Linked DNA regions of Homo sapiens: all the other regions are linked to region 1. The links come from fine-mapping of genetic effects on gene expression. A gene starts in region 1. Each other region holds a variant in brackets. All regions are shown on one strand. Distances are between the middles of the regions.

Region 1 (5,106 bases):
TAGTAGTTTTTATCTCTGGAATCAGCCCAACCTTCCCCATGTCCCAACCCATTCCCTAACTTCTACTAATAAATATCATACCAGCTGTCTGCCTGCTGTTGAGGTAACAGCAGGTTATTTATGCCCCTATAGATTCAAAGTGGGTCAAGAATGTAAGAAGCAGACTATGAGCGTGTTGAGGGAAAGGACTGTATCTTGTTCATTGTTAAATCCTCTAAACATTAAGCAAAGTACCTGGCACACAGGATGCCTGATAAGTATTTCTGCTTGCCATTAAGCTAAGGCCCATTCACAAAAAGAATTTGCCAACAAATAACCAAGTAACCAGACTATTAATTAGGCATAAGTATATTTAGAAGAAGGCAGTGTAAGCCCCAACTTCAGTCTTGATCTCTAAGCCAGTCTGTCTTTATAATGACAAAGAGGTTAAAAAAAATTTTTTTTCAACACACGGTCTTGCTGTTTTGCCCAGGATGGAGTGCAGTGGCACAGTCATGGCTCACTGCAGCCTCAACCTCCCAGGCTCAAGCAATCTTCCTGCCTCAGCTGATCATCCTGCCTCAGCTCTCGAGTAGCTGGGACCGCAGGCGTGACTAACTCGCCCAGCTAATTTTTATTTATTTATTTATTTATTTTTTGAGACAGAGTTTCGCTCTTGTTGCCCAGGCTCGCGATCTTGGTTCACTGCAACCTCCGCCTTCCAGGTTCAAGTGATTCTCCTGCCTCAGCCTCCTGAGTAGCTGGGATTACAGGCATGCGCCACCACGCCCAGCTAATTTTCTATTTTTAGTAGAGACGGGGTTTTGCCATGTTGGTCAAGATGGTCTCGAACTCCTGACCTCAGGTGATTCACCCACCTCGGCAACGTGTTGGGATTACAGGCGTGAGCTACCGTGCCCAGCCTAACTTTTTAATTTTTTTGTAGAGACCAGGTCTCATTATGTTCCTCAGGCTGTTAAAAGGTAAATTTTAAAATAGATTGTGATAAAGCTGTGACAGAAGCCCAAAACTTTACCATTTACAAATCACAACATCTTTTCAATTTTTTCTCCCAAATTATCCTGGGGGAAAAAAGCATTCGAAATCCAACAACAATTTATTATCCACTCAGTCTCTAGTTAAGCAGCCTACTATTAGGTGACTCAAAGATGACTGCTCACCATATAGAACGGAGGGTGTCCAATCTTTTGGCTTCCCTGGGCCACACTGGAAGAAGAATTTTCTTTGGCCACACATAAAATACACTAATGATAAATGATGAGCTAAAAAAAAAATTGCAAAAAAAACACAACAACCCATGTTTTAAGAAAGTTTATGAATTTGTGTTGGGGCACATTCAAAGCCGTCCTGGGCCCACATGCGGCCCATGGGCTGCGGGTTGGACAAACTTGATGTAGAAGTGGAGGGGATGGGCTACACAAAGTAACCAAGGAATGTTTACAGACTGATTATCTCTTCATGTGAAAATGATTTTGATATTTCTTAATATCGACCTCATAAGTTCCTTATGAGGATTATGAGTTCATATTTTTAAAACGCTTAAAACAGTACCTGGCACATAGCAAGCACCATATTAAGTGTTTAAGTTACTTTTAATCAGTTTCCAATTGCATTCGTTCATATGTTAGAGATCTACAATGCCTAAAGAAATTACCAGGTTGAGAGAGAAGTTCCAACTGTACAGTCGTTAAATCTAAAACTAGAAAGAAAGAGGTCTCAGACAATGTTTCATGCAAGCTCATTTCATGGTTGAAGAAATTAATCATATATCTCATATTTGCAGAGAAATTCATAGGTTACAAAAAGCTTTCACAACGATTATTAAGTTTGATTCTCACAACAGCTTGTAAGGGATGCAAGGCAAGTATAATTAACTGCATTTACTCATTAGGAAATCGAACCAGAGATGTTAAGTGACTTGTCCAAGGTCACAGTTAGTAAGTCCCGGCTTGAATCCAGGTCTCTTGATGCCCAGTCTTCTTTCCTCTACAAAACACACTGCAACTTGGGCCCTGGACTTCAGTGACATTTGGAAACAATGATTCCAGTGATTACAGGACCCTAAATGAAAGTTCTGTTGCAAAAGCTAATGTGAAAAGGCAACTCTATTAACTGCATGTAGAAGTAATCAATATCTGGCAAAATATCTACCTACACATGAGTGTACAGTATAAAATGCCATGATTACATATATTCACAAAGGTCATCACAAATCTGCGCAGCACTCAAGTGACAGTTCTCCATAATATGTCATTCAGAGATCGCCAGACCCTGAGTATATTGATGTCAGTCTAAGAAAAGACTGCCACTTCCCTTAAACCAAACCCAGAAGGGAAAGGCTTGCCCCAGAGGATGGTAAAGACATGGAGCCTAACAAGGCTCTGCGGGATTACACGCAGGTTGCAAACTCCCAGCGATAAATGAGTACCGACCCTCCCAGCCGGTGAATCAGCTCGCGTTCATCCGGCAGCATCTTTCCCCGGGGCTCGCCACCCCCAGCGCAGCTAAACTGGGGAGCTAAAGGTGATACGGCCACCGTTTGCAGGATTCAAAATAACCTCACAGAAAGGCTAGCTGGCGGTAGAAGCGGCACTGCATACCAACACAAGACGTTATTTTAAGCGCGTGTCCCCACGAGAGAACCCATCCGATCTACTGGAGCAAGCATCTCCCACCCGCCGGGAATTTTCCAAAGCCAAGCAGGAGGGGAGGCACGCCCGCCCTGCTAAATCCACATGGGCCCCCTTTCCACTCCGAAGCCCGCTCTGCCCCCAGCTCGAGCAGCGCGGCAGGGGCCTGGGAGACCCCCGAGGCGGGCCACCTTCCGCCGCCTTCACCATCTCGCCCGAAAGAGGAAGGTGCCGCAGCGGGCGACCGGCTGGTAGGGCCGAGGGTTCTGAGGCGCTGAAGGGGATGGCGCTGGTGGGGCTCGCCTGGGCCCGGCGCTCCCGCCCCCTCCCCAGCCTGACAGCTGGCGGCGAGGGCCGCACAGCCCCAGTCCTCGACGCCGGCCGCGGGGTGCCTTACCTTTGTGTAGAGCTCCGACGCAGCCATGGCGGGCCCCGCGCGCCTACGCCCCCCGCCTGTGCGGAGGCCGCACCTCGCCTGGGCGGCCGCCCGAGCGGACTAGGAAGCGCCCGCAGCCGCCGGCAGGGAGCAGGGCAGGGCAGGGCCGGGCGGGGAGGGCCGCGCGGGGCGGGGCGGGGCGGGGCGCCTCAGGCGCTGGCCGCCCGCAGGGGCCTCGCCATCACTCCCGGGCTCGCCGCGAGCAGCCGCGAGCGCTCCACCTGCCCGGGGTCCTAGGGGTCGCCGCCGCCGCCGCAGCCACTTCGGCGGCCCGCGATGCTGCCTCCGCTGCCGCCGCCGCCACCGCCGCCGCCCTGTGCATTATGGGAGCGGGAGGAGGCTGCGCTCCAGCGCTGCCACCGCGGCTGCTCTGGGCTCTCTCGGGCTCACGCTGCCTCCCATCGGCTACGAGCACAGAGCATCATCATCATCAGCCTGCCAGCCGGCCCCGCCGCCGCCTCGCGCCCTGCCGAGGCCCGGAAACCCGCCCGGGACGTGAGCCCCGAGGGCGCGGCACACCCCGGGCGCCCCCACCCCGAAGCGAGCCCGGGGCCCTCTGCTGCGGAGCCTAGCTCCCGCGGTAGCGCAGCCATGGCACGGGCTGTTACTGTGTCCGAATAAACGATGGGAGCCTCCAGGCTGCTCCTCCCGTCCTTCCAAGCATTCCTAGGGAGAGGATTTAGGGGAAGCCCTCTTGAAAGACTGTAGAATAACCCAGGACTGTAGAAGAGCCTTGTCAGCAGCAGTGACCCGGGAGATGGGCAATGCAGGACCGGGAATTTCAGGTTAAGGTTGATCACCAAGGTCATTCCGAGCACCTCGATGTCTGCAGCAAAGTCGTCTCCCGATACCAGAGGGCAAGGGCCGCTTCTAAGCTACAGAAACTTAAGTGACTTTGAAACGAGATAGCCCGGGGACAGCCCAGGTGCCTCTTTCCTAGACCTGTGCGTTTGCGGAGATGCAACTACCCTTCTGTCCCAGCCTTCTTCCCGTCCTGTTCGCTGCTGGTGATTGTCGGCTCCATGGTGGCACCTGAAGTTTATCCGGTTGCCACCTGAAAATGACGGAGTACTTACATGGAAAATCTGTATTACAGTTTAACTCAACATCAAAAGGGCAAAGCCGCCCTCACTCTCCTCACGGTGATCCTTGAACATCCAGCACAAGAATGTGGTCTTTCTACTCCCAACCCTGCGCTGTCTTCATCCTCTATCTTCTCCCCACCCTCATTGTCGTTTCTGGTTGAATAATCTTCATTCTTTATTGTTGTCGTTGTTGTTGTTGCTGTTTTTGTTTGTTTAATCCCTGCCTCTTTGTAGTGCCCTCATCTCTCGTTTCTTTGAACTACAACTGGTCCCCAGTGCCTGTCATGGTAATCTGGTAGACCATTTCTATCACGAACAACTCTCATGGCTGAGGCCCCCGGTTGTGTGTGTTGTGTGCGTGTGTATTTGGAGAAAGACCATTCACTGAAAGGAACGGGGCCAGTCCTTACTCCGTGGAACTCAGACCTCTCCTCTTCGCCCACAATCCCCTCAGAAATGCTAGAGGGAATGTCTACTGAGTCGAAAGTCCTACAGATTTGTCTCTGTTCCTTCCCATTGCAAAACCAAATCGCTTTCATGTTTCTGGGACCCACTCTTTCTTCACCCAGACATAAAAAGAGAAAACGTGTGCAGTGACGACCAGCGGAACGGAAGGAGCACTGGACTGAGATTTAGGAGGCCTGGCTCCTACGCCTTGCAGTTTCTTCATGTCGTGTGCAAGGTGGTAACCACTCTGCCTGTTTTCTCACCTTCAAATAATACCTACCTCTCAGGACTGTCGAGAAATGCTGAGTATACTGAGAAAAAAAAAAAAACTAAAAAACTGGACGAGTTCTTGTAGGTGTGAATGCTTTCTTCGTTTTCTATTTTTTTCAAGTGATGAGGAGAAAACAGAAAGGGGAATTATCCTCTTATAAGTCCAGAACGCATGCATTCAACCACTCAAATATTTGGGGCCATACTAAGAGGAAGGTAATGGAGATGAGGAGGAGAA
Region 2 (5,106 bases), 93 kb before region 1:
CAGATGACCAATAAATGTTAAATAAGTTAATTCCCTAGTTTGGTATTAAAAGCCCTCCTAATTGGCCTAATTCTTCCCCGCCTTCCTCCCAACTAGTATCTTCCCCTCAGTTTTGCTCTCCATGCTGCCACCAATGAGTCTCCTCTAAGACCTGGCACCATGCCTCTTTTTAAAAACACTACAAGCACTCCCCATAGCACACCAGTTAAATGCAAGAGTTTTAGGATTAGATGTGAATCTAAACCTGATAATCATAATAAATTCACAGGCCAAAATAGAAGCTTTTTAAAGTATCTGCTATTTTCACTAATCTATGCCATTAAAAACACTATCAGGATAGAAAACTGAGTTTGCCATTTTTACCAATTTAGTAAGTAAAAATTCTAGGTAAGTTCAAAATTTAACTTCCATTGGGAGTTTACTTCACAGTAAATTTACACTTTTGAACTCCCTTCACTTTATGCCAATGACAACAAATGAAAGTGAGATCTCACCTTTCCTTCCTCGAGGTGAAGCAGGAGGACTTTATCTCCTGGCTTATAATCTTTGAGCAGCTCTGCTGACTTCCAGACTTCCTCTGGATCAGGTATCCAAACCCTGGCAAACTAGAAGACAAAAAGAAAAAAATTTAAACTAGCAAATCAATTATTTTACAATCATATATAAACATATGATAACTATTTATAATTAAACAATTTATGAAAAAAGAAATCTTGGCCAACATGAAATTCACTTTTTTTTTTTTTTTTTTTTTTTTGAGACAGAGTTAAGCTCTTGTTGCCCAGGCTGGAGTACAGTGGCATGATCTCAGCTCACAGCAACCTCTGCCTCCTGGGTTCAAGCAATTCTCCTGCCTCAGCCTCCTGAGTAGCTGGAATTACAGGCGCCTGCCACCACACTCAGCTAATTTTTTTGTTTTTAATAAAGATGGAGTTTCGCCATATTGGCCAAGCTGGTCTCCAAACTCCTGACCTCAGGTGATCCACCCGCCTCAGCCTCCCAAAGTGCTGGGATTACAGGTGTGAGCCACCACGTCCAGCTGAAATTTACTTTTTAAATTAGTAAACAAAAAATATTTTAGCTCTCATAGCACCACCATTCCCAAATTATATAAAAAGTGTGCTCTGAAAAAACAGTTATGATCAAAGCTTGACTTTGCTTTACACAGTAAATGCCACCTGAAAGTATAATTTTAGGTTAAAATGTACACATAAGATCTATTTTTGAAGCTATGGTGTTGTGGTTCTGCCAGTTTCAACAGCACTGCCATCTTTTTATGGCTGGGTTTACAATTTGGATTTTTTTGTTCTTTCTTTTTCTTTTTTTTTTTTTTTTTTGAGATACAGTCTCGCTCTGTTGCCCAGGCTGGAGTGCAGTGGCACGATTTCGGCTCACTGCCACCTCTGCCTCCCGGGTTCAAGTGATTCTCCTGCCTCAGCCTCACGAGTAGCTGGGACTACAGGCATGTGCCACTGTGCCCAGCTAATTTTTGTATTTTTAGTAGAGACGGGGTTTCACCATGTTGGCCAGGCTGGTCTCGAACCCCTGACCTCGTGACCCACCTGCCTCAGCCTCCCAAAGTGCTGGGATTACAGTCATGAGCCACCGTGCCCGGCCCACAATTTGGATTTTTTTATGGTGGTTTGCATCCTGTGCTCTGCAAAGCCTTAGTGATTTCTCAGACATCCTTCAGGAGCCATCACAGTAGGGAGAAGAGGAGAATAAAAATAACAGATTTTTTAAAACTGAAGAAACACGGTTGTTCAGCATTTTGCCTTCATTATTTTATAAAGATGAGTGGGAAATGGTAAAAATGGCACAGCCAGTCACTAATAAGCTTAGCTCCTGTAGCCTCAACATCATGAAAAAGGCATGGTAATCATCAGGGATTCCCAAAGCAGCAAATATTTTGCCTCAACTAGATACTCCCTGGACATAAGCCAGAAGATTATGTGGTCAATTTTGAAGAAAAAGAACAAAATATACTAACATGCACAAATCTTTCGAATACCACATTGAAGAAGTGTTTTTATGTGCTTGGACTCTCTGGGAAGAAATTTCCCTTTAAAACACACATACACTAAACCTAAATGCCCATTTTCATGAACAAATCACATATGAAAACAGGAATCCTAGATTCAGCCAGCAAGGGAAAGACATGACACAATCAATCATGGCTGGCATGGGCCAGACT[G/A]AACCCGGTCTCTGGCCTGTATCTGTATCCTCATTTCATGTAAATTCACCTCTAGATTTCATTTTTAACAATAATCAGGGTACTAATTTACTTGGAGCTTTGAGAAGGAGCATTTGGATTTGAGTATGTTAAATATGGGGCAACTTCCCAAAGAACTGTGATAATGTAATGACTATTCTAAGTACTGGGCACAAAGTTCTGGAAGCTTGTAACAAGGTCATTCCCAAGTACAAGAGAAATTTATATGACCCAGTGATGAACTTACAGATAGGAGAAAGCGAAAAGAAAGTGGGTGAACGAAAGTACAGGTAGATCTGAGATTCAAGATAATTTAAATTAAGAAAAACATTTCAGCATGCCATGCCACTGTCCTGGATATTACGTTAACCTCTTTTTTTTTTTTTTTTTTTTTGAGACGGAGTCTCACTCTGTCACTCTGTCACCCAGGCTGGAGTGCAGTGGCACGATCTCGGCTCACTGCAACCTCCGCCTCCTGGGTTCAAGTGATTCTCCTGCCTCGGCCTCCCGAGCAGCTGGGACTATAGGCACATGCCACCACACCCAGCTAATTTTTTTCTATTTTTAGTAGAGACAGGGTTTCACCGTGTTAGCCAGGATGGTCTCGATCTCCTGACCTCATGATCCACCCGCCTTGGCCTCTCAAGGTGCTGGGATTACAGGCATGAGCCACCATGCCCAGCCTATGTTAACCTCTTTACTGACAAATATTTTCAAGCCTTCCTATTGGGAAGCTGCTGTGGTATATTGCCATAGTTTCCAAACTACTAGATTTCATGGCTGGTAAAATTTTTTACTTAAAGTTTGGGGACTGATATAAGGTTATTAACTAACTTTTAGTCTTGACAAGTAAGATTATAAAACCATTAATTATTGGCAGCACTTACAGACAAGTAGAGGCTAAAGCCCTCACACTCAGCAGAGGCAACATAAATACCAATTTACTGTCTAATATCACCATCGTTTTACAAAATAAAGGACATTTTAACAAGAAAACAGTAGGACAAATAGCCATCACAGTTTTTTTGTTTTCTGTTTTTCTGACACAGAGTTTTCCTCTTGTTGCCCAGGTTGGAGTGCAATGGCATGATCTCGGCTCATTGCAGCCTCCGCTTCTGGGGTTCAAGCGATTCTCCTGCCTCAGCCTCCCAAGTAGCTGGGATTACAGGTGCCTGCCACCACACCTGGCTACTTTTTTGTTGTTGTTGTATTTTTAGTAGAGACAGGGTTTCGCCATGTTGGCCAGGCTGGTCTCAAACTCCTAGCCTCAGAGAGTGATCCTCCCACCTTGGCCTCCCAAAGTGCTGGGATTACGGCGTGAGCCACCACACCTGGCCTGGCCATCATAGTTAACATACAAATCCCTTACCATGTTCTACAAGGGCCTTCATGACCTGTCCTTTCCTTCCCCTGCCAACCTCTAAGCCGGCACTATGCAGATCTTATTTTAGTTCTTCAGGAACACAGTTTTGTTTGCTCCTGTCTCTAGACCCTGGCTCTTGTTAAGCCCTCTATAATGTACTTCTCCCAGATCTGCTTATGTCTGCCTCCTTCTCACTTATATGATAGCTCAAATGTAAACCTCTTCAGAGAGGCCTTCCCAGACCTTTCTAGCGGAAATCAATCCAAACTACTATTACCATTCTCTATTTTACATTCTTCAGCACTCTTATTCACTATCTGAAATCACCTGCTGTTATGTTCTTGTTTGTTTACTTATTTACTATCTCTCTTCCTTCATTAGAACATAAGTTCTGTGTCTGTGTTGTTCAACACAGCAGGCAGTACTTAGAACAGTACCTGACACAGAGCTGGTGCTTAGTAAGAACTTATCGAAAGAAGATCAGAATAAAAGGCATCTCTTTAAATTGAATATAAGTAGCATGATTAAAAGCTCGCTCAATTGCTTTAATTTTCTCTTATTATTACCAACACATACAAACTTTTAATCTAAACAGTTTGCAGAGGAAAGAGTATGGAATTAGACTATGGGTTCTACTCCCAGGGCCACCAGATGGGCCTTGGCCTTTATTTCAGGCAACAATAAAATGAGGATGACAACAATAGTCTTCTAGTTTATTGCAAAGGCTTACGCACATAGAAACTTCATGAAAAGTATAAACCAATATATAAGTACAAGGTGGGGTTGTTACTGTTTTTCCCATAGGAAGTGATTTCTAATGTCATATATCAAACATGTTACTGAAATTTGTTTTACAACTTTTTTCCCAGGGACACAGTCCATAAACTGAGTAATATCTGTACATATCACTAAAGCCTTACTCATGTAATAAATATTTCTATGTACTAACTGCTCCCACTCTGAAGCTTACTTTACAAAGACAGCACTTTTGTAGCTTTCTCTGGAAGGCACTACTGGTTCCAGAAAAGATATATAAATATAAAGAGATTAAGAGTCGGGCTGGGCACAGTGGCTCATGCCTGTAATCCCAGCTCTTTGGGAGGCTTAGGCAGGCGGATCACTTGAGCTCAGGAGTTAGAGACCAGCCTGACCAACATGGTGAAACCCCGCCTCTACTAAAAATACAAAAATTAGCCAGGCATGGTGGTTCGTGCCTGTAACCCCAGCTACTCAGGAGGCTGAGGTGGGAGGATTACTTGAGCCCAGGAGGTGGAGGTTGCAGTGAGCTAAGATCAAGTCACTGCACTCCAGCCTGGGCAACAGAGCAAGACTCCATCTCAAAAAAAAAAAAAAAAAAAAAAGAGAGAGAGATATTCAGAATCATGAAATGACCTATCACCTTGACTGATGAAAACACAAAAAAGGAAAATGTGTCCAAGTGAGTTTGTAGAAGCATGACTGACCAGTGCCTAAACATGAGGAGACTTTAAATCTAGAAAGTGCCTTCATGTTCTGTGTTAGTAGGGAGCTC
Region 3 (5,106 bases), 83 kb before region 1:
AGGCCCAGGTATTTTACATGTATAATTTCATTCAAATAATCACAATAACTAACCCCAGTACTAACCCATTTTAACAGCTATTGAGGCTTAAACCTTAAACATGATAGAGATGAAGTTCCAAGTCTACTCTAGGAGCCATACATTCTTTCTACTCCACTATGCCCACCCATTGTTAAAACAGTTTTTTTCTTTTTTTTTTTTTTTGAGATAGAGTCTTGCTCTGTTGCCCAGGCTGGAGTGCAGTGGCACGATCTCGGCTCACTGCAACCTCCACCTCCCAGGTTCGAGCGATTCTCTTCCCTCAGCCTCCCAAGTAGCTGGGACTACAATACAAGTGCATGCCACCAATCCTGGCTAATTTTTAGTAAAGAAAGGGTTTCACCGTGTTAGCCAGGACGGTCTCGATCTCCTGACCTTGTGATCCGCCTGCCTTGGCCTCCCAAAGTGCTGGGATTACAGGCGTGAGCCACCGTGCCTGGCCAAAACAGTAGATTTTATTATGAAGGAATTCCCCTCCTCCACCCCCAAATTGTTCTTGGTATCATAATGAAAACAGCTATTAAACTGGCCCATGTCATCTGGTGAAACTTAAGAATGTCTCATCTAAGACAACATGTCAAAGCCATGCCAATCAGCTTGCCATCCATCCTGCAGTGTTCCAATGAGCTCTGACAAGAGAATGAAGGCTCTACCAAAAATGAGGTTAGTCAATAACAGCAAAAAAACAATCTGAGGATGCTGAAGACTAAAATTTTAATGAATGAGCTCAGGTTCATGAACTTCTATAAATGAACAAAATCATAGGGTTGACTTAAAATTTTTATTTTTTTGCTGACTCTGCAAGTTACCTTGCATATACTGTGAAATGTACCTGGTTTAAAAGTAAATCACGCTTCACTTTGGGAGGCTGAGGCGGGTAGATCACGAGGTTAGGAGTTCGAGACCAGCCTGGCCAACATGGAGAAACCCCGTCTCTACTAAAAACACAAAAATTAGCTGGGCATGGTGGTGGGTGCCTGTAATCCTAGCTACTCGGGAGGCTGAGGCAGAACTGTTTGAACCAGGGAAGCAGAGGTTGCAGTGAGCTGAGACTGGGCCACTGCACTTTAGCCTGGGCGACAGGGCAAGACTCCATCTCAAAAAAAAAAAAAAAAAGTAAATCACACTTTGGGAGGCCGAGGCGGGTGGATTGTCTGAGCTCAGGAGTTCAAGACCAGCTTGGGCAACATGGTGAAACCCTGTCTCTACTAAAATACAAAAAATTAACTGGGAGTGGTGACACGCACCTGCACAGTCCCAGCTACTTGGGAGGCTGAGGCACAAGAATTGCTTGAACCTGAGAGGCGGAGGTTGCAGTGAGCCGAGATTGTGCCACTACACTCCAGCCTGGGCAACAGAGGAAGACTCTGTCTCCAAAAAAAAAAGGAAAATCAAGTTCAAGTCAGCTCCCTCCAGACACTGAAATTATCATTTTAAATTTAGGAAGAAAACAAGAACTTGCAAATTGATGGATATGCTTTGTCACCATTAAGTAGCAAAAATTAAATATTCTTATTTTTCTAAAATTTTATGTGAGATGACAGAGCTTTGGAATGAGTATTTTTAGACACTGTAGTTATTTAACATTCGTGTAAAGATTATTTTCAGAACTAGATCTCACTTCTTAAGAACAGTGTTAATATGCATATCAAGAAAAATTAGTATTTCCATCTATAATTAGCTGGTGGTATTTTAAACCACAAAATTCTAAATAATTAAAATAATCAAAGGTAAAACAGAATCACCAACAGGGAAGCGAACTATATAGGTTGTATTCATCACAGGACTTTGATCAGGATAAAGAAAAGTCCTAACTTTACTTAACCTCATAATATGCTTTATAATTATTATTAAAGAAGTTCCTTATTCAACAAAACACTTGAGAGAAGTTAGATAACTTGCCCCAAAGTCACTCAGCTAATAAATGGCAGAAGCAGA[A/C]TTCAAACCGAGAAAGATCTCTGATTTCAAAATGATTAGGTTGTATAAGGAAGAATAAGAAAAACACAATCTCATTGAATCACTTTCTCCTGATTGGGACCAAAGTTGCTCAACTAAGCAAAACAACTCACACTTTCCTATCATTTTCAACACTTGTTCTCAATGTAGAAAAAAGTATTAAATGGAAGTCATATTAAATATGTACAGGCCTCTTTATATAGGGGTCTTCCTCCCACATAGACTATCTATCACCCTGATAAATGATGTAGTGATGAAAGAAGTCATGGGTAATTTTTTAAATTTTAACTAAAATGTCTTAACATGGTAAGATTTAAGGAATCATGGCATTAAACATCAAACAACACATACATTATATGAGACAATATGGATAAGGTGCCAAAACAGTACCTGGGAAATAATAGACAGGTGCCGGTATGTATTTCCCTCCCACTTATAACAGGCAGCTCCCTTTGTGTTGCTCCCCAGCTTTGGGAATCGACACTTCTAGGTCTTTTGCTAACTTGGGAAATGACACAGTTTGGATATTTGTCCCTGCCCAAATCCCATGTTGAAATGTAATCCCCAATGCTGGAGGTGAGGCCTGGTGGGAGGTATTTGAATCATGTGGGCAGATCCCTCATGGCTTGCTACTGCCTTTGTGATAGTGAGTTCTCGTGAGATCTGGGCATTTTAAAATGTGTTGCAACCTCCGCCCACCTTCTCTGTCTCTTGCTCCTGCTTTTTGCCATGTGATGTGTCTGCTCCTGCCTTGCTTTCCACCGTGAAAGCTCCCTGAGGCCTCCCTAGAAGCAGATGCCGCCATGCTTCATGTACAGCCTGCAGAACCGTAAGCCAATTAAACCCCTTTTCTTATAACTTACCCAGTCTCAGGTCTTTCTTTATAGCAATGCAAGAATGAACTAACACAAAAAATTGGTACTAGGAGTGAGGGATTGCCTCACATACAGATAACTGAAAATGTAGAAGCAACTTTGGAACTAGGTAACAGCAGAGGTTGGAAGCATATGGAAGGCTCAGAAGAAGACAGGAAGAAGAAAGAAAGTTTGGAATTCTTAGAGACTGGTTAAATGGTTGTGACCAAAATGCTGATAGTGATCCAGACAGTGAAGGCCAGGCTGAGAAGGTCTCAGACGGAAATGTGGAACTTAGTGGAACTGGAGCAAAGGTCACGTGTGTTACGCCTCACCAAAGAACTTGGCTACAATGTGGCCCCCGCCCTAGGGGATCTGTGGAACTGAACTTCAGAGTGATGATTTAAGGTATCTGGCAGAAGAAATTTCAAGGCAGAAAAGCATTCAAGATGTGGCCCGACTGCTTCGAACAGCCTACACTCAGGTACAGGAGCAAAGAAGCGACTTAAAGTTGGAATATATATTTAAGCAGGAAGCAGAGCATAAAAGTTTGGAAAATTTGCAGGCTGGCCATGTGGCAGAGATAGCTTTTGCAAGAGAGAAATCCAAGCAGGCTGTGGAGCAGCAACCATTTGCTAGAGAAATTTGCATAACTAAAAGAGAGACAAGTGCTAACAGCCAAGTCAATGGGGAAAAGGCCTGGAAGGCATTTCGGAGACCTTCCCAGCAGCCCCTCCCACCACAGGCCCAGAGGCCTAGGAGGACATTATGGTGTAGAGGGCCAGGCCTAGGGCCCCACTACCCTGCACAGCCTCAGAGCTCTGCTTCCTGCGTGCTGGCTGCTCCAGCTCCAGCTCCAGCCAAGGGTCAAAAAAGCCGGGGTACAGCTCAAGCTGCCACTTTGAAGAATGCAAGCCATAAAGCTTAGCAGATTCCATGTGGTGTTAAGCCTGTAGGTGTACAGAATAAAAAGTGAAGAACGTTTGGCAGCCTCCACTTAGATTTCAGAGGATGTATGAGAAAGCCTGGGTGCCGAGGCAAAAGCCTCCTGCAGGGGCAAAGCCCTCATAGAGAACCTCTACTAGGGCAGTGCCAAAGGAAAATGTGGGGTTGGAGGCCCTATACAGAGTTGCAAGGGGGCATTGCCTAGTGGAGCTGTGAGAAGGGGGCCACCATCCTCCAGATCCCAGAATCGTAAATCCACTGGCACCTTGCACCTTCAGCCTAGAAAAGCCACAGGCATTCAACTCCAACCCATAAGAACAGCCCTAGGGGCTGAACCCTACAAAGCCACAGACAAAGAGCTGCCCAAGGCCTTGGGAACCCACTCTTTCTATCAGTGTGCCCTGGATGGGACGTGTAGTCAAACAGGATTATCTTGGATCTTTAAGATTTAATGATTGCCCTGCTAGGTTTCAAACTTGTCTGTAGCCCCTTTCTTTTGGCCAATTTCTCCCTTTTGGAATGGGAGAAATGTCCATACCCCACGGTATCTTGGCAGTAGTCAACTTGTTTTGATTTTATGGGCTCAGAGGTGGAAGGAGAAAAGTCTCAGATAAGACTTTGGATTTGGACTTCTGAGTTAATAGTAGAATGAGTCAAGGCTTTGGGGGACTGTCGGGAAGGTGTGATTGTATTTTGCAATGTGAGAAGGACATGAGATTTGGAAGGGGTCAGTGGAGGAATGATATGGTTTGGATATTGGTCCTCACCCAATCTTATCTTAAATTATAATCCCTAATGCTGGAGGTAGGGCCTGGTGGAAGGTGTTTGGATCATGGGGGCGGCTCCCTCATGGCTTGGTGCTGTCTTCGTGATAGTGAGTTCTCGCAAGATCGTTATCACTCACTCACACTCTCGCTCTCTCTCTTGCTTTCTCTCTCCCCAATCCTTGCCATGTGATGTGCCCACTCCCCTTTTGCCTTCCACCATGAGTGGAAGCTTCCTGAGGCCTCCCCAGCCATGGTTTCTGTACATCCTGCAGAACCATGAGCCAATTAAACCTCTTTTCCTTATAAATTCCCAGTCCCAGGTATTTCTTTATAGCAATGCAAGAACAAACTAATACAGAAAACTGGTAATGAGGTGTGGGGCATTGCTATAAAGATACCTGAAAATGTGGAAGTGGCTTTAGACCTGGGTAATGGGCAGAGGTTCAAACAGTTTGGAGGGCTCAGAAGAAGACAGGAAGATGAGGGAAAGTTTGGAACTTCCTAGAGACCTATTGAATGGTTATGACCAAAATGCTGATAGGGAT
Region 4 (5,106 bases), 220 kb before region 1:
GTTTCACAGACAGTATCTGATCAATTTTGGGCTCCTTTGAAAGGATAGTTCTTGAGGTCAATGTTTGAGACTTGTTCTGATCCTGCAAGGACTCCTCCTGGCTGTCTCTTCTCCCAGTTCTCTCCAGGAAAGTTATAGCCTAAAGTTCAGCCGATAACTCTAATGAATCTACCAATCCCCTCCCAATCCCCAGTCACTGCAACCTTCACTGTTTTTGAAACGCCCTTAGGCTTGAACTTCTCCACACTCTTTTGCAAATGAAGTCAGTTCCTTTAGGAAGTAATTTGGAGCTTTCTGTTTTACAGCCTGCTTCTGCTCCTGGTGAAAATCTCTGAGCCATTGTTCTGGAGCTGGGGATGAGGACAATGGCTTGCATCTCTTTGAGTGATGGGAGCCAAATGCTCGGTGGATGGGGGATAGTGGCCTTAGGTCTTTTTGGTTGGCCTTTCCCAGGATGAGAGCACCACCTTAAAAGCCTGAACAAGATGCACTGGGGTCCCAGTATTTTCAGCAGTGATGTCCCCAAGGTAGAGCCTGTGAGCCATGAGTAGGGGCTGGGTAGAAGGGACCCCCCCCACCTGTTGACTGCATTTATTTGAAACTTAGCTTAAGCAAGAGGTGGCTGGGAGCAGGATGAGAAGTGCTGACATCCTGCCCCTCCCAGGAAGACAGCCCTCCAACTGTGAGCTGGCAGAGAGGAAGCCCTGAGTTCTTGGCTATACCAGTCTAGAGTGGAGTTTTTGTCTCATTGACCTGGAAGATGGAAGGAGGGAGGAATCTTGGTTCAGATACAACAAGCTCATTCTCTTTATCAAGCTTTAGTATGTTTTCTTGAATAAGCACTTCTTCATTTGGTGTATGCCCTTAGGACCATTTCTAGAGACTTTAAAGAATTGGGGGTTTGGTTTGTTTTTAAAATAATTCTCACTGGTTTCACTGGTTTCCCTTGGGAGTTGTCTGCAAAGCTCCTCATGCTATCATGTCAGAAGTGGAATTCCTAAAAGCTACTTTTGAAATGTGAGAAATATTTCTCCTGTTGTATTTAATGTCAACTCAAGAATGGTTTTCCATGGGCTTTTGGCCTGTCTTTCTTTGCCCATCTCACTTCTGTTGACCAACCCCATTCCTACCTGTATTTTCCTCCCTCCCTTCTGTTTTCATGAGGTTGTTTTTAACAGCTTCTTACTTCCCTCCAAAAGGAGCCCCATTCTTTTGCACAGTAATCACCATCCTAGCTAGGGTCATCCTAGACACAGGCCATTCAGCCCGGAGACCTATTTTTCGCAGACCATGGGTGTACATGTGAAAAGAAACCATTTGTCTTCCTAGATTATAACCTGAAGATTTGATACAACCCAGATCTTCTCAGTAGAAATTTTTTTTGGTCACAAGTAGCATTGACCAAACTCTCTTCAAATTCATTTAGCTTTCTTGATAATATAGACTCTTAGGAAATGAGCTTCAGATATACATGGTTGACAACATAAACTAGTATTTTCTTTCTTTTCCAGTAACTGCTGAAGTTTCAAAATGTCTGTTTACCATATTTAAGTTTTGGTAAGTAGTTCATGTTTTCCTTATCTGTGCCAAGCATAATTTTTTTTTCTTTTATTTTGAGATGGAGTCTCACTCTGTTGCCCAGGCTGGAGTGCAGTGGCGCAATCTCGGCTCACTGCAAGCTCCGCCTCCCAGGTTCATGCCATTCTCCTGCCTCAGCCTCCTGAGTAGCTGGGACTACAGGCGCCCGCCACCACGCCCGGCTAATTTTTTGTATTATTTAGTAGAGACGGGGTTTCACCATGTTAGCCAGGATGGTTTTGATCTCCTGACCTCATGATCTGCCCGCCTCGGCCTCCCAAAGTGCTGGGATTACAGGTGTGAACCACTGCACCTGGCCCAACCAAGCATAATTTTTTAGCACTTGCCCACATTCTTACCTTCTTGGCATTCATTTCTCTAGGCCCAATTGTCTCAGGACTTTCAAACCATTCTTATGAGTAGTATCCTTTTCCTTCAGTTATCTCTTATTCTCTTCTGAACCTCTTATATTCCCTTGTGTTTTGTTTGAAACCCAATGACCAGAACTGCCCATAGCTGGCCAACATGGTGCTAACGAGGTCTGTATGGCAGGTTTTATTTCTCTCCTTTTGAATAATGTCCATCATATTTTGGTTTCAGTAGCAAGGTGATCAATGTGAACAAATCACATGTCTTCCCAGGTCCCTTTCCGGGGTGGTAAATGTGATTTCAAAATTCTTGTTGTGTAACACTTTGCTTACTTCTTTGTGCACTTATGCTGACTGCTAAGACCCAGGAAACCCACCCAGCAGCTCCACACTTTCACATGGATGGCACACTCCCAGTGCTGCACACAATTCGTGTCCCTTTCTTTCCCATTCAGGAGAATGCATTACTGTAGACATGCATTGCTTTCATTTCCTCTGTGAACTATACTCTGTCTTTCCTCTGGTGAACTCCCACTACCACCTAATCAATCCTATGTTTTCTGTGAATTACCCAATTTTTAGTTTCAGTGGGGGGTATGTCAGGCTAGGACAGTCAGAGCACTCATCTGGACACAGTGATTATTCTGAGGATGGAAGTAGGACTTAAGCCACTGAGACTCCATCCTGAAATGCCTTACTGAGAATTACTGAAGGCAGAGCCATAGAATGAAGCCAAACACTACTGAGGGCC[A/G]TCTTTGTCACTTGAGGGAGAACATGACTAAGAATGAAGCCAAAAGTAAGGAAAGAAAAGGAGATCCCTGATGTCAATGTTTGGGCACCTGGATATATCTCTGAACTTTAATTGTGTTAGGTAATACATTTCCTTCTTGGTTGGGTCAGTTTGAGTTTGATTTTTGTCATATGCCCCAGAAAGAATCCTAATGATCATACCAAAATGCAACTGGATGAGCGTGATTTTATTATTGGGAAATAATCTTGCCTTGGTTCCAATTAATTTAGAAAAAGAAACTGTTGGCTGAGCACGGTGGCTCACACCTGTAATCCCAGCACTTTGGGGGGCCAAGGCGGGCGGATCACGAGGTCAAGAGATCGGGACCATCCTGGCCAATATGGTGAAACCCCGTCTCTATTAAAAATACAAAAATTAGCTGGGCGTGGTGGCGGGTGCCTGTAGCAGCTACTCGGGAGGCTGTGGCAGAATCACTTGAACCCAGGAGGCGGAGGTTGCAGTGAGCTGAGATCACGCCACTCCACTCCAGCCTGGCGACAGAGCGAGACTTTGTCTCAAAAATAAAAAAGAAAAAAAGAAACTGTTTGCAAATTTTGACATTTTATTACTTGTAACATATTGGTGTTCTGCTGTAGTTCATGGGGCCAGTGATTGAATTTAATTTGGAAGATGCTATATTTCAAGGGCCTGTTGCGGTGCCCAGAAAAGTACTTAATAAATGAGTTGAATGAATGTGTCATGGAAGTAGGAAGTGTATAATCTACATGAAAACCATGTACAGTCATAGTCATGCATTACTAACAAAGGGGATATGTCCTGAGAAATGCATCATCAGGCAATTTCATCATTGTGCAAATATCAGAGTGTTCTTACACAAACCTAGATGGTATAGCCTACTATACACCCTGGCTATATGGAATAGCTTATTGCTCCCAGGCTATAAACCTGTATAGCACATTACTGTACTGCAAATTGCAGGCAATGGTAAGTACCTGTTTCTCTAAACATAGAGAAGGTAACAGTAAAAATACAGTATTATAAACTTATGGGACCACTGTCATATATGCGGTGCATTGTTGACCCAAAATGTTATGTGGTACATGATGATATTAATTTCTCCTTATCATAAATAAAGATGAGACTAATTCCACCACAGATCTGAATAACTGCTCTGTTTCCTTACCCAAAAAAGCACATCTGCATACTTCTTTGATCTATGTCTTATGCCAAAAAATGTCTACTGTCCCACTATATTAAAAGTAGAACTTTTGACACAAATGACACCCTCAATCTTTTGAAAATCTAAGTAGATTATGCATATCAAATTTCCCTTGGTTATGTCTATTTCTCTGTCAGAGAATTCCAATATATTTAGGCATGACTTTCCCTTGAAGAAAAGACACTACCTCTTCTTCAGCTGTTTCTGTTTGCTTAAGTGTTTGGCAGTTCTCTTCTTTATCATATATATTACTAGGGTGTCCAGTATAGGAGGGGAACTCGTCAACTTTTAAATTTCCAAGACTTCTTAGAATATTCTCATGGGGAGGGATTATATTTACATTCACTAGTCTTCAGGAAAACAACTTGTTTTGTTGTTTTAAAATGTGCAGTGGATTTGCTTATAAGACACTGACAAAAACTCTTTATATCCATATCTTTATTTAAACAAGTTTCCATAATAGCTAGGAGAATACAGCATTAATGACACACATTTACTAAGCACAACAATGGACAACTACAAATTTAGAGCATAAATGTAATTCTGATATTGTTTTGGTTTTTATCTTAGCACTAGGTGATATCTAGTGAAAACCCATGTTTCAAAGGCTTTTGTTGATATGAGATGAATTATTAACTTATTTTTAAAAATTGCACGTGAGATATGCTAGAATGGGTTCTAGAGTCTAGAGTTAGTTGATAATGCCTTTCATGTCTCAGTATTTCTGCTTCCTTTTTAATGGGTAAATGTTTCACCTAAGAACTTTCAAAAAATTGTATCAAAATTTTCTATGCAGATCAAAGTAGAATTCCTTTTCCAGACCCAACAAGGAAAAATATTTGAAAACTGCAATGTTCAATTCCATTTTAGTTAAAAGGATGTCCATTTCATAGTAAATTAATACAGTTAATAATTAAAATACAATATGTTAAATGGCATGAACTCATTTTTGCGCAACACTGTTAGCGCAATTTAAATCTCCCAAAGACACAAAAAAGTCAATTTTACTGCAGGATCCCACAAAAATACATAACCAGGAATCATAAATTACAACATATATATCCACATTTAAAGAAAAAATTCACCATTTGTTGGGAAAAAATAATGGCTCAAATGATTTACGGAGCCTGAAATGTGGGCTAAAATTTTATAACATGATAACAATAAGATTTGAAACTGCTGACTCTGAA
Region 5 (5,106 bases), 190 kb before region 1:
ATCAAAAAGAAAGTGGACAACAGTAGGCTCAGTAACAGCTTAGAAGGGCTATGAGTCAGCAATGTGTGTGGTCTGTTATTCAGGTTATGGAGAAGAAAGGCATTCCAAATACAAATATTCATTTTCCAGTTTAGACAGGAGTAGATTTAGCTACTAGGCCAACCATTAAAGGGAACAGTTGCTATCTCTTCAAAGTGTTAAGTTGTACTTCTTGGATTTTACGTGACCTTTCAAATCACATTTTGCTTCCATCACACTGTAAGCCTAGTGTTAATAACAAACCAAACGTGACAATGGACTCAGGACACTGACAGAGGTGACACCACTGGCTAAAAGACAGCTGTGGGGAGAAACAGGTTTCGTGAAAATTTTGAAGAGACTTCCTGGGAGGGGGCAGGCAGCAGTGTGCTCTTCAGTTACAGAGGGCTATAAGTAGCAAGGGAAGACAGCAGAAAAGCACTATGGTTTTACATACAATCATCCGTTTGTAAAGGGAAATCCGATATGATTGATACTTCTTAGGGTCATCTGCATATAATTCCTCAAAATACTGAAAAAACAGGCACAATGGATATTTGTTTTTGTCTGTGTGTTTGAGGGAAATGCTATCTTTCAGCAAAATCAATTTTAAAATATTTTAAAATACAAATAGTGAAACTATATATACTTGAAAGGCTCTGATTTGTCACCTTCCATTACCCTTTTATCTTTCTAGTATAGATTATTCTAATTACATATGTACAGATGTTTCTTGTGTGAACAAAGGAAAGAGGCTGTGGCCAGGATGCCATCACTTAGCAGGCCCAGATAAGGCTGTCATTTCCCTCCTCCAACCTCCTGCCTTTTTACTCCCAGCCTCCCCAACACATGATGCTCACAACTTGCTGCACTTTTTTTTTTTTTTTTTTGCCGCCAGCAGCAGTGGCAAGAATAGGGGAGGTAAATATAATAAAAGTGAGAATAATAGCAATGTTAGCTTGTGAAGCTGGAGAGGCTGGTGGGAAGCTGTGCATCTTCCTTCGCTGAAAGACAGCACGGGGGAGGCCTGTGAAGCCTGTTCACTAGATGAGGTAGAAAAATCATTTTTGTGTTTTGTGTTGGTGGTAGGTAGGTGGGCAAGGTAGAGTTTCAAGAGCACTAAGCCCAGGTCTCCTGCTGGGCTTTAATATCCTACTCAAGTGTTTCTTATAGAAATGCACAATTAAGATTGAGAAAACAATGATTTTGAAAAAGTCTATCATTTCCTGTACTTATGTTTGAATCCATCCTCCTGAATTAGTAGTCAGTGTGATGGCAGGAGAAGCAGCTGACCTACAAAAGGTTTTCCCCAAACTCAAATTCATTAACTGGGCTCTATTAGCTTAGAATATAGGGGCTTAGTCTATTTTTTGTATTAGCTATGAAAAATTGCCAAAAAAATTAATATTGCAAACAAGGTTGCAAGAGAAATGTCTGACCAACTTAGTGAAAAAACCCTGGAAATCTGCCACCCAGAAGCATCTTTATTTCACGATTTCACCTTGTATTTTAAAACAATAATTTAAAGCACAGAACTTGTATGCCAATCAATCAACTTATTATATTATTCAGTATATTTGGTAATACTTAGTCATCAAAGCATTGTTAGTTTAATTTAAGCAACAGTATACTTGAGCTTTGTAAAATAACACTTCAAAAAATATTTCATGATTCAGAAAATTTTCCCCACAAATTAGTGAGATGTCAATCACTTTGGAAAGAGCCCACACACTGCCCCCACCCTCCTCCCTCATTCCCATGGTGGAGCCTCATACAGACAGACTGTGAAAAAGAATACCTTTGCGTTTTGCTTCTAATTCATATAAAAGATGGTTGAATAAATGACACTAGAAAACTGTTTGTAATGTAAATTATCACAAATGGAGTAATGGAGGGATAATTCAGATTGTTAAATCTTCAGAGAAAATTCATACTATTTTATTATAGGTCATTAAAAATGTTAATTTAAAAAAGACACAAATCACCACCAATCCTAAACAATTTTTCTCAAAATCGGGCTAGCACTACAATATAGACTTTATATAGAAATATGAAATTATCACTTTTTAAGGATTTTTAATATAGTAAATATATTTGTCAAAAAACTGTAAATCAGTAATAAAAGTTATTATGTGACTGAGAAATATTTTAGAAAATTTTTTTGGCAAAAGAAAAAAAAAAAGGAACAAGGCAAAAAAAAGAAAAGAAAACAGTCAGACTCCATGCCAGGGTTTAGAATCTGACAAGGAAAAAGACAATTTCCTCACTTGTTATACAAGTTCTGTTTAAAAGAACAGAAAATATGTAAACCTGAATCCTAACACACACCTCCCTGACCTGGGAGCTCCATCCAACATCAACCAAAAACCCCGGCTTAGTTTTGCCAACCGCCTTTCTCAACCTCAACTCTAACCCTACTTGTCTGCTAGAGGTGGAGCCTG[G/A]GATGGCCTCAGTGGCTGCTTGGGGACCAAAGGTAAAGGAAGCCTGTCCCCAGTCTCAGTTGTGACAATCACATAATAAACCTAGGATGGCAGAGGATCTGCAGCTGAAATGGAGGAAGCAGATCACCTGCCATCAAAAGCCCAGCCTGCACCCAGGTGGTTGTCTGCCTCCAGGGCAGGTCTAAGAGCACGCAGCCCTCCGTGATAAAGAGAACCTGTGCCTTCTTCCTTCCTACCAAAATATTTGTATTTTCCTTACTCTGTCTCTGCTGGAGTAAGAGGGGTAACAAGTACAGAGGGGTGAGTTTTTCCCAGCAAGAAAAACCCGTGTTTGATCAAAAAGAAACTAGACTGTCGGGCAGGCTAGGTTAAGAAGCATGTGGACCCGGCAGCTCTCCTTACCAAGTTTTCGTTGGTCAGCCGGGTGATCTCGTGCTGCAGGCTGGCCTCAATGCGGGCCTCTGGGGGCAGCTGCAGGTTCTGGGCCAGCAGCTGCTGCTGTCGGTTGTTCTCCTCCTTCAGGCTCTGGATCTCCCCACGGAGGGCCTCGGCCTCATTCTCATGGCTCCTCTTCTGTGACTGCAGCTGGGATTCCAGGAGCCTGCGGAGAGGACACATGGGTCGGAAGGGGAGACGACACCCCGAGTTGCTGCCTAACGGGTGTAAGGCATCGTGTTCACTTGCAAGAGTAGGAAAAGCAGATATTCTTTAGTATCTGTGTTATCTTCTGACTTGATTAAAGTCAAGAAACTAAAACAAGAAGCAGAAATAGAAACGGGTGCTCTCACATTTGTGTCTTTCTGCATTATATAAAGTTCTCAGAGGCCCTAAGAAACAGGAGAGTTTTAGTTCTCTTGAAAGGTTCATAGGAGGCCGGGTGTGGTGGCTCACGCCTGTAATCTCAGCACTTTGGGAGGCTGAGGCAGGCGGATCACCTGAGATGAGGAGTTTAAGACCAGCCTGGCCAACATAGCGAAACCCCATCTCTACTAAAAATACAAAAAATTAGTCAGGCGTGTTGGGGCATGCCTTTTGTCCCAGCTACTCAGGAGGCTGAGGCAGGAGAACTGGTTGAACCCAGGAGGCAAAGGTTGCAGTGAGCTGAGATTGCACCATTGCACTCCAGCCTGGGCAACAAACAAGAGCAAAACTTCGTCTCAAAAAAAAAAAAAGAGGGTCATAGGAAATGAGGATGTAAAAAAAAAAATCAATTGAAAAAAACAGCTTTAATTTGCCTTGCATTTGCATTTATAAATTAGCATTTAAATTGGCAAAGACAGTACACCTTTGCCACAAAACAACTCTGCACTATAAAGGCCAACATTATAAACTTCCAAATTAACTAAATGTGCCTTCAGAACTACAGTTACTAATTCCAGGCAGAGGGAATTATATTCTACTCCTATTCTGAAAGACAGAAAGGCTGGAACACCACTCCAGCCTTATATATACAGATTTACCCGAATCCACACAAATAGTTCTGAAATTTCCTATATATATTTTAGATCTGTCATCTTCTCTCTCCGCATAAACTTACATATCAGAAACAGAATCCTAACAAGATGTGGTTTTAGAACACAAATATTAATAGGACCAAAAAAGTGGTTATTGCTTTTCCAAGCAAACATACAGCCAGCTGTGCCCACAGAGCAGACCAGGCATTGGCAGTGAGAACACCAGAGTCAGAGCATCCTCCCTTTGCCACGCACCCCTGCTTCTACAGTCACTCTCTTCCAAATGCAAAGTTATGGTTAAGAACTAACTAATGTGAAGAAAGAAAAGACATTCTTTTATTCCAGTCCCTTGGTTGCCAACTGCTGGGTAAAACTTAATGATGCCATTGCAAGCAAACTGTTAACAGTGGACTAAAAATATTTAGTGATTAAAACATTTCAAAAAGATCTGCAGCAATAACACCCCAAAGTTAATGACAAGCGTTAATGATGAGAACAAAGCAGAATAAGCAGAAGCCCCTTGAACAAACATTTGAGTGTTTTAAAAATTTAATCACTAAAATAGAATTTTAATGAGATTTTAAAGACAAATATCACTAGAGCAGATGAATGTCTGTGTTAGAAAGGTGCTGCTGTTTCAATTTTATTTTCTCTCCTCTGAACATATTTAACGGGTTGAATTTGGGTAATTATTCTGAGCTATAGCAATGCAGAAAACTCTCCTGATTTGCTGTTTCACAAATGTGAATTTCATAATAACCACACAGAGTGCCAAATCATGCATTTCATCTTGCTTTTAGACAGCATGATAATAATATATAAGAAGGTAGGCTGGGCGCAGTACCTCAAATCTGTAATCCCAACACTTTGGGAGGCCGAGGCAGGATTGTTTGAGCCCAGGAGTTTGACACCAGCCTGGGCAACCAAGTGAAACCCTGTCTCTACAAAAAATAAAAAAATTAGCTGAGTGTGGTGGCACATGCTTGTGACAGTCCCAGTTACTCAGGAGGCTGAGGCAGGAGGATCGTTTGAGCCCAGGAGGTCAAGGCTGAATTAAGCCGTGATCATGCTACTGCACTCAAGCCTGGGTGACAGAGCAAGACCCTGTGTCAAAAAAAAGAAAAGAAAAATGTAGCCACATTGCCATAGACACATATATCCTGTAGATCTATCTATAGGATATGAGAAGCCAC

Direction of the effects. Alleles are on the strand shown, and positions count from the first base shown. SD is a standard deviation of normalised expression in the study named. Not every link is listed here.
In carriers of allele G in region 2, the expression in tibial artery of the gene that starts at base 3,128 in region 1 tends to be higher than with A alone (small effect, 0.24 SD a copy in GTEx).
For the expression in monocytes after Pam3CSK4 of the gene that starts at base 3,128 in region 1, allele C in region 3 goes with a higher level than allele A (moderate effect, 0.60 SD a copy in Quach 2016).
As copies of A replace G in region 5, the expression in caudate of the gene that starts at base 3,128 in region 1 goes up (small effect, 0.19 SD a copy in GTEx).

Evidence for each region. PIP is the estimated chance that this variant, and not a neighbour inherited with it, causes the effect.
Region 2: its variant is the best candidate, but not a certain one, in a credible set for the expression of MYO5A in tibial artery (GTEx, PIP 0.77).
Region 3: its variant is the best candidate, but not a certain one, in a credible set for the expression of MYO5A in monocytes after Pam3CSK4 (Quach 2016, PIP 0.90).
Region 4: its variant is the best candidate, but not a certain one, in a credible set for the expression of MYO5A in lung (TOPMed, PIP 0.87).
Region 5: its variant is the best candidate, but not a certain one, in a credible set for the expression of MYO5A in caudate (GTEx, PIP 0.53).

The regions. Positions count from the first base shown.
Region 1 is chr15:52,525,753-52,530,858 of GRCh38, forward strand. It overlaps MYO5A (myosin VA), which reads right to left and starts at 3,128. Exons shown (of 42, transcript NM_001382347.1): 1 at 3,028-3,128. The coding sequence starts at 3,054. RefSeq lists a silencer at 2,778-3,657.
Region 2 is chr15:52,432,681-52,437,786 of GRCh38, forward strand. It overlaps MYO5A (myosin VA), which reads right to left. Exons shown (of 42, transcript NM_001382347.1): 2 at 495-605. Among named protein-coding and RNA genes, the nearest start is that of MYO5A, 94 kb to the right of the region's middle. The variant G/A (reference allele first, on the strand shown) is at 2,195.
Region 3 is chr15:52,442,570-52,447,675 of GRCh38, forward strand. All of the region lies in intron 1 of MYO5A (myosin VA), which reads right to left. Among named protein-coding and RNA genes, the nearest start is that of MYO5A, 84 kb to the right of the region's middle. The variant A/C (reference allele first, on the strand shown) is at 1,978.
Region 4 is chr15:52,302,944-52,308,049 of GRCh38, forward strand. MYO5A (myosin VA) reads right to left here. Exons shown (of 42, transcript NM_001382347.1): 42 at 4,340-5,106. LOC105370819 (a long non-coding RNA gene) reads left to right here. Exons shown (of 4, transcript XR_932250.3): 4 at 1,512-1,557. Among named protein-coding and RNA genes, the nearest start is that of MYO5C, 9.7 kb to the left of the region's middle. The variant A/G (reference allele first, on the strand shown) is at 2,698.
Region 5 is chr15:52,337,335-52,342,440 of GRCh38, forward strand. MYO5A (myosin VA) reads right to left here. Exons shown (of 42, transcript NM_001382347.1): 32 at 2,862-3,060; 33 at 476-550. Among named protein-coding and RNA genes, the nearest start is that of MYO5C, 44 kb to the left of the region's middle. RefSeq lists an enhancer at 907-1,483. The variant G/A (reference allele first, on the strand shown) is at 2,460.